Regions from separate parts of the Homo sapiens genome. Here region 2 is reported to be linked to region 1. Evidence: microRNA targets listed by miRTarBase, many of them from high-throughput screens and not tested one by one. Region 1 holds a microRNA gene; the other region holds the end of a gene's coding sequence.

What was found. The annotated mature microRNA hsa-miR-1244 reads AAGUAGUUGGUUUGUAUGAGAUGGUU and lies in region 1 at 1,222-1,247, shown strand. An mRNA with a match to its seed (bases 2 to 7 or 8) in the 3' UTR can be bound and repressed. Matches are read on the target gene's strand: a 7mer-m8 pairs with bases 2 to 8, a 7mer-A1 pairs with bases 2 to 7 and ends in A, and an 8mer does both.
Region 2: the mRNA of NKX2-1 is a reported target of hsa-miR-1244. The part of its 3' UTR that is shown has no 7-base or 8-base seed match.

Annotation. Positions count from the first base shown.
Region 1 is chr12:12,110,785-12,114,183 of GRCh38, forward strand. MIR1244-4 (microRNA 1244-4) reads left to right here and starts at 1,168; the gene lies at 1,168-1,252. It also overlaps the pseudogene PTMAP9.
Region 2 is chr14:36,514,267-36,517,602 of GRCh38, reverse strand. NKX2-1 (NK2 homeobox 1) reads left to right here. Exons shown (of 3, transcript NM_001079668.3): 3 at 1-1,206. The coding sequence ends at 325. All of the region lies in intron 1 of SFTA3 (surfactant associated 3), which reads left to right. Among named protein-coding and RNA genes, the nearest start is that of NKX2-1-AS1, 3.3 kb to the left of the region's middle. RefSeq lists enhancers at 1-112, 2,335-2,962.

The DNA of each region.
Region 1 (3,399 bases):
TCGGGGAACATGGATAAAGATATAACTTTGTTACAAACAACCAAATGGGGTGGGGATGGAGCTATAAATAAGTAGATTTTTTGGCCAGGCATAGTAGCTCACACCTGTAATCCCAGCACTTTGGGAGGCTGAGGTGGGCAGACTGCTTGAGCCCAGGAGTTCAAGACCAGCCTAGGCAACATGGTAAAACCTCATCTCCCCACTGGCTGCTCTGAAAAGCCATCTTTGCATTGTGCCTCGTCAGCCTCCTTGCTCGCCGCAGCCGCCTCCGCCGCGCGCCTCCTCCGCCGCCGCGGACTCCGGCAGCTTTATCGCCAGAGTCCCTGAACTCTCGCTTTCTTTTTTATCCCCTGCATCGCGTCACCGGCGTGCCCCACCATGTCAGACGCAGCCGTAGACACCAGCTCCGAAATCACCACCGAGGACTTAAAGGAGAAGAAGGAAGTTGTGGAAGAGGCGGAAAATGGAAGAGACGCCCCTGCTAACAGGAATGCTAATGAGGAAAATGGGGAGCCGGAGGCTGACAACGAGGTAGATGAAGAAGAGGAAGAAGGTGGGGAGGAAGAGGAGGAGGAAGAAGGTGATGGTGAGGAAGAGGACGGAGATGAAGATGAGGGAGCTGAGTCAGCTACGGGCAAGCGGGCAGCTGAAGATGATGAGGATGACGATGTCGATACCCAGAAGCAGAAGACCGACGAGGATGACCAGACAGCAAAAAAGGAAAAGTTAAACTAAAAAAAAAAGGCCGCCGTGACCTATTCGCCCTCCACTTCCCGTCTCAGAATCTAAACGTGGTCACCTTCGAGTAGAGGGGCCCGCCCGCCCACCGTGGGCAGTGCCACCCGCAGATGACACGCGCTCTCCACCACCCAACCCAAACCATGAGAATTTGCAACAGGGGAGGGAAAAAGAACCAAAACTTCCAAGGCCCTGCTTTTTTTTTCTTAAAAGTACTTTAAAAAGGAAACTTGTATTTTTTATTTACATTTTATATTTTTGTACATATTGTTAGGGTCGGCCATTTTTAATGATCTCGGATGACCAAACCAGCCTTCGGAGCGTTCTCTGTCCTACTTCTCACTTTACTTGTGGTGTGGCCATGTTCATTATAATCTCAAAGGAGAAAAAAAAACTTGTAAAAAATGCAAAAATGACAACAGAAAAACCATCTTATTCCGAGCATTCCAGTAACTTTTTTGTGTATGTACTTAGCTGTACTATAAGTAGTTGGTTTGTATGAGATGGTTAAAAAGGCCAAAGATAAAAGGTTTCTTTTTTTTCCTTGTCTGTGAAGTTGCTGTTTATTTTTTTTTGGCCTGTTTGATGTATGTGTGAAACAATGTTGTCCAACAATAAACAGGAATTTTATTTTGCTGAGCTGTTCTAAAACAAACAAAAACAAAAAAAACCTCATCTCTAAAAAAACAACAAAAAAATTAGCTGCATGTGGTAGTGTGTGCCTGTAGTCTCAGCTACTCGGGAGGCTGAAGTGGGAGGATCACCTGAGCCTGGAAGGTGGAGGTTGCAGTGAGCCAAGATCGCGTCACTGCACTCCAGCCTGGATGACAGAGCAAGAGCCTGTCTCCACAAAAAAAAAAAAAAAAAGAGAAAGAAAGAAAAGAAAAGAAAAGAAAAAAAGAGGGAGAAAGACAAAACCATCAAATTTATTTAATATGTTTTATATGGTACAGGAGTCTTCATATTGAAATGAAGACCCAAAGAAACAGATAAGTGTTAGTGTGTTTTGTAGTAGGTTTGATGAAGAGTAGACAGTTGTGGAGAAATATGATAGGACATAAAGGGTATGATCTCATAATAACTGGGGGAAACTTAGCAAGACCTAAGTTTAGATTTCTTTGTGACTTTTTTTTTTTTTTTTTTGAGACGGAGTCTTGCTCTGTCACCCAGGCTTGAGTGCAGTGGCGCGATCTCAGCTCACTGCAACCTCCTCCTCCCAGGTTCATGCCATTCTCGTGCCTCAGCCTCCTGAGTAGCTGGGACTACAGGCGCCCTCCACCACGGCTGGCTAATTTTTGTATTTTTAGTAGAGACAGTTTCACCATGTTAGCCAGGCTGGTCTCAAACTCCTGACCTCAGGTGATCCACCCGCCTCAGCCTCCCAAAGTCCTGGGATTACAGGCGTGAGCCACTGCACCCAGCCAACACTTTGTCTTTAGAGATAAGAATGTTCTCTTCCAGGTGTAGAGAGGGCACCTCTCACACGAGAGACCTGCTTAAGGGAAAGATCAGAAAACTTATCCCAGGTTTATAAACTGCTTCAGGTGAGAATGATGAAGGAATCCTGCTTCCATGATTTTTCTCCAATTCCTTCAGCTCAAAATAGTATTCCGAGGTGTCATATTTTAGGTACTACGTTTTGAGTCCCAGTAGAGAAGACACAAATTACCAATGTCTGAAACAAAAACAGACATTAAAAGGATAGAGAACGTATTTTATGTCAGTAAATCAACAACTTAGATGAAATGGACAAATTCCTTGAAAGACACAAGTAACTAAAGCTGACCTAAGAAGAGAAAATATGAATAACCTAGATTAGAGAAACTGAGGTATTAAAATTTTTCCTGTTACATATGTATCTGCAGTTAGGAATCATAGCACTGCATACTTGTGGACCCTAACCCTTTCCTTCCCATGGAATCCCCAAGAAGGAACTTCAATTACTGGACAAAAGACGAGAATCTTCAAGCCTGTTCAATTGAGTAATGGTAGTGGGGGAGCTTTTGGTAGGATGATCAGAAGTCAAAAGACCTCAAGATAATCACTTCTTGTCTGCCATGCAGCTTGTGATGTAAGATGGGCATCGGGCTGTCTCCTTTTTGACAGTTATTTTCTTTGGAAAGTGAAGCAAGGGCTTAGGGGGAAGGAAGCATCGAATAGGTATCTCCATGGAATAGGATACCACATAGGCGTTTGGGCTTCAATGGACTCTACCTTGTAATACAATTCATTGCCTCAAATGCATTATGTATAAGTACCTCTCTAGAACAGGTATTGGAATTGACTAATTAAAGAGTCAAGTGGTAGCCAGTCGTGGTAGCTCACGCCTGTAATCCCAGCACTTTGGGAGGCCGAGGTGGGCGGATCACAAAGTCAGATCGAGACCATCCTGGCCAACATGGCGAAACCCTGTCTCTACTAAAAATACAAACAATTAGCTGGGTGTGGTGGCACATGCCTGTAATCCCAGCTACTCGGGAGGCTGAGGCAGGAGAATCGCTTGAACCACAGAGTCAGAGGTTGCAGTGAGCTGAGATAGCACCACTGCACTCCAGCCTAGCGACAGAGCTAGATTCAGTCTTAAAAAAAAAGAAAAAAAAGTCAACCGGCTCATTAAAGAGTTAAGGTTCTGAAAACTCTACATTAGGGACTAATACCAAG
Region 2 (3,336 bases), not on the chromosome of region 1:
GAAAGACGGCAAACCGTGCCAGGCGGGTGCCCCCGCGCCGGGCGCCGCCAGCCTACAAGGCCACGCGCAGCAGCAGGCGCAGCACCAGGCGCAGGCCGCGCAGGCGGCGGCAGCGGCCATCTCCGTGGGCAGCGGTGGCGCCGGCCTTGGCGCACACCCGGGCCACCAGCCAGGCAGCGCAGGCCAGTCTCCGGACCTGGCGCACCACGCCGCCAGCCCCGCGGCGCTGCAGGGCCAGGTATCCAGCCTGTCCCACCTGAACTCCTCGGGCTCGGACTACGGCACCATGTCCTGCTCCACCTTGCTATACGGTCGGACCTGGTGAGAGGACGCCGGGCCGGCCCTAGCCCAGCGCTCTGCCTCACCGCTTCCCTCCTGCCCGCCACACAGACCACCATCCACCGCTGCTCCACGCGCTTCGACTTTTCTTAACAACCTGGCCGCGTTTAGACCAAGGAACAAAAAAACCACAAAGGCCAAACTGCTGGACGTCTTTCTTTTTTTCCCCCCCTAAAATTTGTGGGTTTTTTTTTTTAAAAAAAGAAAATGAAAAACAACCAAGCGCATCCAATCTCAAGGAATCTTTAAGCAGAGAAGGGCATAAAACAGCTTTGGGGTGTCTTTTTTTGGTGATTCAAATGGGTTTTCCACGCTAGGGCGGGGCACAGATTGGAGAGGGCTCTGTGCTGACATGGCTCTGGACTCTAAAGACCAAACTTCACTCTGGGCACACTCTGCCAGCAAAGAGGACTCGCTTGTAAATACCAGGATTTTTTTTTTTTTTTGAAGGGAGGACGGGAGCTGGGGAGAGGAAAGAGTCTTCAACATAACCCACTTGTCACTGACACAAAGGAAGTGCCCCCTCCCCGGCACCCTCTGGCCGCCTAGGCTCAGCGGCGACCGCCCTCCGCGAAAATAGTTTGTTTAATGTGAACTTGTAGCTGTAAAACGCTGTCAAAAGTTGGACTAAATGCCTAGTTTTTAGTAATCTGTACATTTTGTTGTAAAAAGAAAAACCACTCCCAGTCCCCAGCCCTTCACATTTTTTATGGGCATTGACAAATCTGTGTATATTATTTGGCAGTTTGGTATTTGCGGCGTCAGTCTTTTTCTGTTGTAACTTATGTAGATATTTGGCTTAAATATAGTTCCTAAGAAGCTTCTAATAAATTATACAAATTAAAAAGATTCTTTTTCTGATTAAAACCCTCCTTTTTGTTTTGTTTTGATTTGGCTTTAAATGGCTTTGAGGGGCGGGGGCTTGGGAGGATCTTGTCTTTGGTCTGATGAGATTCAAATTGTTTGGGTTTGAGCTCAAAGGATTCTGAACCGGTTAAGGAGGTAAGGAGGCCAGGCCCAGAGTCCTTGCCCCACAGGAAGAGGGAGTTTTGTTCTGCCTCAGAAATTGTGTGGAAACAAATCTTGAGCAGTCCTGAGACTGCAGTGGAGGACCGAAATACCAAACTACTTCCACCAAGAGGGAGAGGGAGAGAGGAAGAGAAAGAGACCAAATAATTCATTTTCTGAGTCAGACTTCTGTTGATAGGAGTCTCAGAACTGTCTACTGTGGTCTCACAAAGCTGAGCCAAAGTTTTAAAACAGTGAGAGAGGACACCCATTTTAAATCAGTCTGAGTGAGTTATGGTTTTCAGTGAATGGATCACCTCTGTAGATTTGAACATCAAACCTTTATTTCTAATCAGTGGCTGAGCTCCTTCACAGAATTCGATGGGAGGCTGTTTTCGAAAGTAAGGAAGTCATTCAGGGGTTTTGTTTCTGTCCTAAAACAGGGACCCCTCTAGGGGACCAGCAGCAGACGCCTTCAGCCCCTGCTGCTTTTGGCTCCTTTGGCCTCCAACGGGGTAACACTGGGTGACAGGCCTGAGGACATCCCAGGAAGGACTTTGGGAGCTGAGATTTCACTCTTTGTTGTACTGGGTTTTATCTCTGGGATCCTAAATTTTTGTAGTAATGAATCTTTCTCCTGTTTACAGTTCTTCACCTCCCAGCCACTACCTCCCACGCCAAGCAAAAAAAATAAATAAATAATAAATCATTTTTGATTCCTTTCTTCCAACCTCTAATTTCCTGGTTTCCTCAGCGCTCAGTGTTTGTGTTGGGAGACCCATTAGGGATGAGAGAGAGGGGAGAAGGAATGGTTTTGAACACAGAAAAATTGTAGTCCCCTGGATGGGCTGTAGCCCTTCCGGGTCACCCTTGCCAAATCTCCGGTCGAAAGGCAGCTGAGCCAGCTGCGGGCAGACGCCCCTCCCAGCACTTTCCTCTAGGCCTGGAAGTATTGGATTATGGGCAATTGATTCTTATTTGGCATGTACTCACTTCTCGCCCAGGTTTTCAACTTTCTTTTTCTTCCTCTCTTCCCCTCTCTCATTTCGTTATTCGTCTGCATCTCTTCCCAATCCCTCTCTCCCGCTCCCCCACCAAGAGCTTGTGAGGAAAGCAGACTGGCCGGAGTCCTCGCTCCGGGCCCAGCAGTCCTCTTTGTTAACTTCCTGGAGCCTCCTCTGGCGTGGTGCCTTAAGACTGTGGGCTAGGCCGGGCTTTCTCCCTCAGAAACCTGGGCCTCACTGCTGAGACACAGTTTCCAACAGCCAGAGGGACTCGAAGATTCCCAAGAGGATGGTTGGGTCTAGTGAGAGTGCTTGTTGGAAGGCGGGGAAGGGAGATTTTAACAGGTCTCACGTTTTGGAAAACAAACAAATTTGACCACTTGCGTTGGAATGGTCAGCTGTGGTTCCGGGACCGGGAGTGTAGGTGGCTAAGGCACCCAGCTCAGGCCGGCCGGGCAGGGGACATGGATACTGCAGCTGCTGTTTGGCTCTAGGTCCGGATCCCACGGAATTGGAGCTTCGCTTAACCTGCCCCAGCCTAGCCCAAGCCCGGGCGGGGACCTGGCTGGCGGTGCCCGGCTGTGGTTCTGGCGGCTGCCCCGCACCCCATTCTAGCTGGGAGGAAGCCTTTGGGAGTCACAATTTTAGTAGGCTGTGGCACCCTCGGCCTTATCATCTTTGCATTGGATGGAGTTTCCATCAAATACATTCTTCTCCTCGCCGTCTACAGTCGGCATAGTTTGAAGTCTGTTTACTTGTCCCGGGGAAAGGTGAACTCAATCGGGTTTGCGGACCGAGACAAACAGGACCTCAGCCTCTTTCTTGCCATCAATTACGCTGGCTCCATCCGCTCCCGCTCCCGGCTGGGGGAATTGTCGCAGCTGCGGGAAGAGACCTAGAACGCAATCTGAAGCGTTTCATTAGGGAAATAGGTGCGCGCTGGGAGCAGTGCAAGAGGGTTCCGCAACCTGGGGACACCCTCCGC